Linked DNA regions of Homo sapiens: region 1 is linked to region 2. Evidence: fine-mapped expression QTL. Tissue or cell type: whole blood. Region 2 holds a variant in brackets; the other region holds the start of a gene. All regions are shown on one strand. Distances are between the middles of the regions.

The links. PIP is the estimated chance that this variant, and not a neighbour inherited with it, causes the effect.
Region 1: VIPR2 starts here. The variant in region 2 is fine-mapped to the expression of VIPR2 in whole blood (INTERVAL, PIP 0.97).

The regions. Positions count from the first base shown.
Region 1 is chr7:159,143,167-159,147,406 of GRCh38, forward strand. VIPR2 (vasoactive intestinal peptide receptor 2) reads right to left here and starts at 1,701. Exons shown (of 13, transcript NM_003382.5): 1 at 1,555-1,701. The coding sequence starts at 1,605. RefSeq lists an enhancer at 3,499-4,240.
Region 2 is chr7:159,196,306-159,200,545 of GRCh38, forward strand. No RefSeq gene overlaps it. Among named protein-coding and RNA genes, the nearest start is that of VIPR2, 54 kb to the left of the region's middle. RefSeq lists an enhancer at 860-969 and a silencer at 1,080-1,149. The variant C/T (reference allele first, on the strand shown) is at 1,737.

The DNA of each region.
Region 1 (4,240 bases), 53 kb before region 2:
GGGGAGCGAAAGGTGCCACAAAGATAGTAATTAACAGTCTACTAATGTGAGAAGAAGGCAGAACTACACAATGCTTCCTCTCAGAAGGCACCGTTTCTACCTTGTTCTTCACGCCCTCCGCGAAGTCAGCACAGGCCTGCCAAGCGGCCCTTGGGGGCTTAAGGAGGGCTCCCCCCACCCATCCTTTTGGTCTTGATCTTCCCCCTCCCCCACCACCGACCAAAATTCTACTTGTACTAAAGTAGTAACTAAAGAGAATCATACTGTTGGGCGTACTATGGCCATCTATGTTTAGTTATCTTACTATTGAAATGGTCAATGAGAGTTCCAACCAGGAACACAATATCCTAACAGAATTAAGGGGAAAACAATGCTGGAACTTCTGCCACCTTCAGCCCCATTTAAAAGAGCCCCGAGCTTGCTTCTTGCTCGTGACTGAACCAGCACCAGGCACTGACTTTGGGCTCCAAGTCCTCTGTTTTCATGCAGGACAAGTAAGTGGCTTAAATTTCAGAATTAAGGAAATTATATTGATGTAAAAAGAAAAACTTTGTTAAAGTGTAAAAGACATTAATAATACCTGACGTTCCTGGAATATGCACAGCAATGACTTCTTTTAGGACATTTTAGCAATGAAAGCAGCATTAACCGTGATAAAACCCGTTACTTTCCAAGGACCCGCTCCGCAAAGCGCCCACCCTCGAGGGAGGAAAGCCGAGCTGCGCCTCCGCGCAAGGCCAGGGAGTGTGGCTCGAGCCCCGCTGCAGACCGGGCGTCGCCGGTTAATCAATGACACTGTCGGGTCAGCAGCGCAGCCTCCCAGCTGCGGAGGGGCCGCGGATCGATCCAGACCTGCCTCGGCTGCGACGCGCACGAAAACCGCGCGCACCGCAAACCCGCTTCAGTCTCCAAGAGGAAAGCAAGAAACAAGGCTCGGGTTTTTTTCTTTCTTTTTTCTTTCCTTTTTTTTTAAGGTTCACAGAGGGAATAATTCAGAACTCCATGTGCGAAGGCACTTAATCAACAAACTTATGAGCAGTTAGTTCCTCCAGTGCCCTTGGGAAAAAGCAACTATTTCCAAAAGGAAACTTTATTTAACCGACGCCACGTCCCCCCGACACTAAAACTAACCAGTAAGTACAGGGAGGGACCGAGAGGCATCTGCGGCCAACGCCAACCCCGATCTCCCCGTGAAACGCGCAGCCCGCGCAGGCGCCCGCAGCTCCCAGCTCCCGGGACGGCCCCGAACGAGCTCATCGTTGACGCGTCCAGGAAGAAACGATCCCGTTTCCAGCAAACCCCGGACGGTGGGGCGCGGGGAAGGGCGCAGGCAGCCTCCCAACCCGAGTCCCGCAACCCGGCGGGACCGGAGCTCAGCGCTTCACGCTCTCCGGGAGGAAGCTCCGGACCCCGGGCGACCCCGCTCCCTCTCCCGGACCCCGCCCGCGCTCCAGCACCCGGGAGGAAGGCGAAGACCGGCGGGAGGAGCGCTCTTCTCGGAAGGGGAGAACCGGGTCCGAGGCGCCGTGGGGCGGGGGTCGCGGGCGCACTCACGGGGGCGAGCAGCCAGCAGGTCAGCAGCGCGGGAGGCAGCAGCGTCCGCATCCCGAGCTCAGCGTGCCGGGGGCCGCCCAGCGCCCGCCGCCTCCGTCCTAGGTCCCCGCGGTTCCGCCGCCTCCAGCATGGGCCGGGAGCGAGTGCGCGGAGACCTCGGGCCCCGCAGCTGTAGCCGAGCGCCCGAGCGCGGGGGCCGCCCCCTCCGTCCCGGCAGCTGGAGCGCGCTCAATGCACGCCCGTCCCCCACGCGCCCCGCCGCTCCGCCCCCCGCCCCTGTCCCCGCCCCGCGCTGCCCCAATCCTCGTCTCCCTCCTCCCCCGAGAACCCCCGCTCCGCGCCCCTCCTCACCGCCCCCCACTTCCCCTTCCGCTGCGCCCCGCGCCCTCTCCTCGCCCCTGGGCTCTCTGTCCCCGCCGCGCGCGCTCCCTCTGGTCTCCTCGACCCCCCCAGCCTCTCTCTCCGTTCTCCTCCCCTCTTCCCTGGCCCACGCCCCCCTCCCGGCCGCGCCTCCCCGATCTGTGGGCGGAGGGGCTGGGAAGCGGGGTGCTCAGTGCGCGCCCGGCTCCGAGTAGAGAGAACTGGGGGAGAGCGGCCGGCGCGGGGCCGGGAGAGGAGGACCGGGCCAGGTGTGCGCTCGGAAGGGGCGGATGCCTTTGCGGCCGCCTGTACCTGCCTTTCTAAACAACTGCGGAAGCCCAAGAAAGCGGCCAGAGACCCGTCCGGGGTGGGCGCGCCGTCTTTGTAGCCAGTGGGGCTAGGTTGGGGCATCTGAAAATGGAGAAAATCAGAGTGCTTTTTGGTGGGGATCCCCGCAGCCTCAAAGAGGACATCAGGTCGAACAGAAAGCTGGAGAAAAACGCAGACGGGGGTATAGGTGGGTCCCAGCCTCAGCTGGGTGGCGGGTTTTGTGTCCTGCGTTTGCAAAACGGGGGTCATTCTCTCCCCGCAAACGCGGCGGCGGGTGGGGAACGCTGGGCGGGGACTCACGCGGTGCCACTGGGGCCGCCCCGCCGCGCCCCACGCGGGACTGCGCGGCCTCCCAAGGCGCCCGCGTGACCAACCCAGGAGAGCTCGGCGTTCCCCAGCAAGTGGAAAGCACTGGAATGAGAGATACAAGTTAAGTTCGTGTTGTTTTAATTTTTTATTTGGAAATAATTTCAAACTTACACAAAAATTAGAAGAATAAGAATATTACAAATAACTCCTTTTTATCCTTTTTGTGGATTCGGTCATTAACATTTACCTCATTGGGCTTATCATTTGCTTCTCTCTGATCCCCCACCCCCCGTATTCACAGATATCGATTTTTCTATCATCTGATGTTTATCATCCACATTATCTATCATCTACCTATCCATCATCTACGTATCATCTATCGATCTGTCATGTACCTATCATCTATCATCTTCCTATCGATCATCTATCTGTAATCTGTCATCTATTATCTGTCATCTATCATCTACCTGTCCATCATCTACCTTTCATCTATCCATCTGTCAGGTATCTATCATCATGCGCCTATCATCTATCATCCACCTTTCCTCTATCACCTACCTGTCATCTATTATCTATGATCTATCCATCTATTATGTACCTATCATCTATCATTTGCCTATCTTTCATCTGTAATTTACCTATCTATAACCTGTCATCTACCTATTTATCATCTATCATCTGCTGTCATTTATGATCTATCCATCTATCATGTACCTATCATCTCTGTATCATGTATCAATCAGCTATCATCTACCTATCATCTCTCTGCGATCTATTACCTATCTATTACCTACCATCTACCTATTTATCATCTATCATCTACCTCTCTGTCATTTATCTATGATCTGTCATGTACCTATCATCTATTATCTTCCTATCGATCGTCTATCTGTAATCTATCATCTATTATCTGTCATCTATCATCTGCCTATCCATCATCTGTGATCCGGCATATCTGTGATCTACCTGGCTGTCATCTATCAATCACCTATCATCTGCCTATCTGTCATCTGGCTGGCATCTATCAATCACCTATCATCTGCCTATCTGTCATCTGCCTGTCATCTATCAATCTATCATCTGCCTATCTGTCATCTGCCTGTCATCTATCAGTCTATCATCTGCCTATCTGTCATCTGCCTGTCATCTATCATCTGCCTATTTATCATCTATCTGTGATCTATCATATCTGTGATCTGCCTGTCATCTATCAGTCATCTATCATCTGCCTATTTGTCATCTATCTGTGATCTATCATATCTGTGATCTGCCTGTCATCTATCAGTCATCTATCATCTGCCTATCTGTCATCTGCCTGTCATCTATCATCTGCCTATTTGTCATCTATCTGTGATCTATCATATCTGTGATCTGCCTGTCATCTATCAGTCATCTATCATCTGCCTATCTGTCATCTGCCTGTCATCTATCATCTGCCTATTTGTCATCTATCTGTGATCTATCATATCTGTGATCTGCCTGTCATCCATCATCTGCCTGTCATCTATCGATCATCTATCATCTGCCTATCTGTCATCTGCCTGTCATCTATCCTCTACCTGTTATCTATCTGGCTTCATCCATGTGTATCTAGTGGGAGACGAGGAGAGGGAGACCTGGGCCTTAGGCGGGCTGCTTGGCTTGTGAAGAAAGCTCGTGGCGCTGGGTGCCTTCGACAAACGCATCT
Region 2 (4,240 bases):
AAAATGGTGTTTTCAAAATACTTCCTGGAATCTTTTATAAGGTAATAAATCAGCAGGAAAGGTCACCCGGCCTGCTCCTTCTTACCACTTCTGTAATAAACATAAGTTTCCATTAATATTAAATATTTCTTATGACAATTTTAGTCTAAACATATTATCAATTATCTTAGAAATGAACTATGTCACTAATAAAAATCATCATCATATTAATTTTCTATTTGGCTTTCAAATTTATAAAACCTTTATCATCTCATTTGATAAAATCCTGTGATAGTTTCATTACAACACAAATTGCATGTTGTAATCATCTTGCTTAGTTTCTGTCACTTTTTAAAACCTGATTTGTCTGTCACCATGCTGGAATGTCAGTGCCTCTGTGGCATCACCTGTCTCTCTTGCCACCGCCTGGCTCAGGCCTGGCACGTGCTCAGTGAGTTTGCAAGACTGAAGGGCACCCCTGCCTCCACGTCAAATCCCAGGGGTCCCTCACGGCGCTGCATGTGGGAAGATGGAGGCTGAGCCCCAGTTTGCATGCCATGGTGCTGGCCCTCGCGTATGAAATACACCAGTGATTATAAAGGTTAGTGAAAAATCTAATTATGAAATTGTACATAAACTACGATTAACTCTTTTTGTATATAGAAGAGGATACAAGGAAATATATCTAAATTGCTATGTTCACTATGCTCAGTGATAAGATTAAAGGTACATATTTTTCCCCTTTGATTTTCAACATTTTCTCAAACGTGCTTCTATTACTTTTACAAATTATCATAATCAGAGACGTAATACCCTGAGTCACCTGTTGTGTTTACTAAGACAACAAAGTACTTTGGGGTTTCTTTGCTCCTTGCAGACAGGGTGGTGGAACTGAGGGAGACTGCAGCCAGCCCAGTCGTGCCCACCCGGGCTTGCCACAGAGTTCATGGGCCTTGGGGGCTTCGTGCATTCTGCTCCCTGCTTAGAAACAGCCTCCCCCAGGCCTTCCCCGCTCCTTAGCGTGGCTGACTTCCTCTGGTCCTTTAGGGCTCAGCTCACCCGACTCCTCCCAGGAAAAGCTCCCCAGTCAGAGGTTCCTCCCTCTGGTCCTTTAGGGCTCAGCTCACCAGACTCCTCCCAGGAAAAACTCCCCAGTTAGAGGCTCCTCCCACGTGCTTTTATTTAGCTCCCTCAGCAGCTACTATGCGTCTTCATGACCTGTTTACCTCGTTCCCCAGGGAAGTCACAGGCTCCCTGAAGACAGGAGCCGTGTTTTGGTCACGGCCTCCTCGCACTGGCCTGCAGGAGAAGCTCCAGGGATACGTGAACGGATAGATGAGTGAGAGGCTTTGGGTGCCCTGAGCTCGAGTTTGTGTTTTAAGGCAAGTCATATCACTTATCAGTCATATCACTGCAGAATGAGAATGCTAAATTTCTCTTGTTCTTACATCCTGTATTTGCACAGCACTTTCACGTTATCACGTGTGACAGAAGGAAGACAGCCTCAGCCTCCCGGCTCAGCCACTGGGTCTAGTCCATTGGGCACAAATACAAACCTGCAAGGTGTGTGTGGCTCGGAGAGGGGCCCCTCAATGTCAGCAACAAGGGGGGATTTCAGAAGGTTCCAGTCTCCTTCTTACCTCTCTTCTCTACTTCTTACCTTCCTTCCTTTATTTATTCCTCTTTTCCTTCCTTTTTCAAATATTTTGAGCTCCTGCTGTTTCTATGCCAGAGAAGGAGGCAGGCCCCAGCGAGAC[C/T]GAGAGAGCTGAGGGCCCGCTGGCCTGGAGGCCTCCGGAAGGCAGCTCCTTCACCACTTTTGATCCCCCTAAAATGTCAACAGACTTTAACCACTGATTATTTGTCATTTAGACCCAAGTGCTAATGAATCTGTCCCTGGTGAAGTTCAGGATGGGCCCCCGGGAGGACCTCGGGCCTGGGGGAGCTGGTGTGTGGGGTTCTTCCCAAGCATGGCTGAGCATGGAGACGGTGGCCATAGCTGAGAGCAGGACGCTCCCCACCCTTCTTTCCTCACCTTCTAACTGGAAGAGGGGTTCAAGCCCTGCTTGGTGAGGGACTTAAGAAGGTGGACAGAGGCTGCCTCAGCAGGCGTGGGTCTCTCCTCTCTCCACACCTGTGCACCAAGTGGCTCGGCTTCTGTCTGATTCACACAGTGCGTGTCTGTGGGCAGTTTTGTGTGAAAACACATCTGCTGCATAAGAAACGGTGGGTGTGGGTAAAAACTGCTGCCAAGGGAGCCACAGAGTGGAGGCCATAGAGCATCTACTGTGTTTCTCTTCAGTTTCACATGAGGCACATGTCACATGCACACACGTGCACACATAACACACTCACACGTGTGTGCAGAAATCTCACACACAGGACATTCCCCCCACCAATGCCATCCCGAACCCACTGAAGTGCTGGAGAGAAGGAGCCACCAACCCTTTCCAGGTGAGTTCCAGGAGTGAAGAGGACTCAAGGCTGCTCAGAGCCTGGTTAGAGCCACGGACAGAGAACGGAAGCCTCGACTGAGCCGTTAGAGGCAGCAGCCTCCCACTGTCCCCCAAGTGCGGGGTCCAAGCTCTGCCTCAGTGACCAGGCAGAGCCTCGCCTGGGTCCTGCAGGACTCACACGGTGAGTGGATGCTGCTGCCACTGCCGTCCGCACCTCCACTGGTGGTGTTTCAGGACCAGCTTGTCAACTGTAACAGAAACATATATAAAACCAGAATCCATTTCTCTTCTTGAGAAATAATTTAAGATTAATTATAATTTTACAGAATGCATAGTTAGTATAACTGCTGATGAGGGACTGAAGGCATCACATCTTTCTTTCTTTTTTTTTTTTTTTTGAGAGTCTTGCTCTGTTGCCCAGGCTAGAGTACAGTGGCACTATCAGGGCTCACTGCAGCCTTGACCTCCCTGGCTCAAGTAATCTTCCCACCTTAACCTCCTGTGTACTGGGACTATAGGCATACACCACAATGCCAGGCAAATTGAAAAATTTTTTTGTAGAGCTGGGAGTCTCACTATGTTGCCCAGGCTGCTCTTGAACTCCTGGGCTCAAGGGATTCTCTCTTGGCCTCAAAGGGTGCTAGGATTACAGTGTGAGCCCTACATGCAGGACAAAATAAAATCTTAAGCCTGCTGAAATTATCCAACCTCTCCTGTGTCATCAACACTCCTCTGTCAGGATGGCCTCTGAGCTTCCAAAGATGAAACATGGAAACAGGGAAACAGGGTGGGTGAGCTTCTCCCTGGGTGACGTGCCTCTCCAGCTCTCCTTCCTGGATTAGACAAATGAGGAGAGAAGGAATATGTCACATCAAAGACCCATTACTGCTGTTTGCAATATGCTTTCAAAGCATGACATGGAAGTTTGCTGTTTTGTTCATAAGTTTTTATTTAGTTATGATTGTAAAAGGACCAAAAGTTATGCCTGTACTGGTGTGTATACTTTTCAATAAACAATTGTGCATTTTTGATAATTTTTCTATACTATGTTCTGATTGTATTTATTGAAACATAATTTTGTTTCAACTCTAATAAAAACCTACGCTTGCTTTTGTATATCTCTTACAATTATATTTTTCTAGTAATTTATTTTTGTTGTATTTTATTAGTATTAGCCTGTAGTGGCTTGGCAATTAAACACAGTCAAGTCTTCTGCACAGATGGATTAGGAAGCATTCAGGAGGCCCCATCACGGGCATCTCTCCATGCAGTCAGTTCCCTGTATGGTGAGCACGTGCACAAGGCAGTTTGGAAGCTCTTGAGGCAAGACTTTTGAAAATACCCTTGGGGTATATAAGGAGAGTCAGGCCTAATATTTAGTAAATTTAGCTATAAAATAATACAGGGAAGTTCCTGTTTTTATCAGAGTCTAACTGTTCAGCATTTTAAAGAAATGGTGCTTTACTTAATTTTTAAGAAAGAGACAGAGCACATGAAATAAATTGCTGGCAGAGAATTGCCAGAGACATGGAGAAGAATGGTTTTGAGCTTGGGGATTTCTGGGGTTCAGTGCAGATTGTACCTAATCTCCCACCCTCTGACGAAACTGGACAGAAAGAGTTGATGTTCGGAACCAGGCTCCCACGACAGTGAGACACACCTGCGTCTTCTGAGCCATGGGAGGAGTCAAATGTTTTCAGCCAGAAATGTGACCCAATACATCTCAGAAAATGTTCGGCAGTCAGGGGTGGCCCAGGAGGGGCTTCTGTGATCACAGTTACCCTGACTCGCCTTGGTAAGTGCTCCCT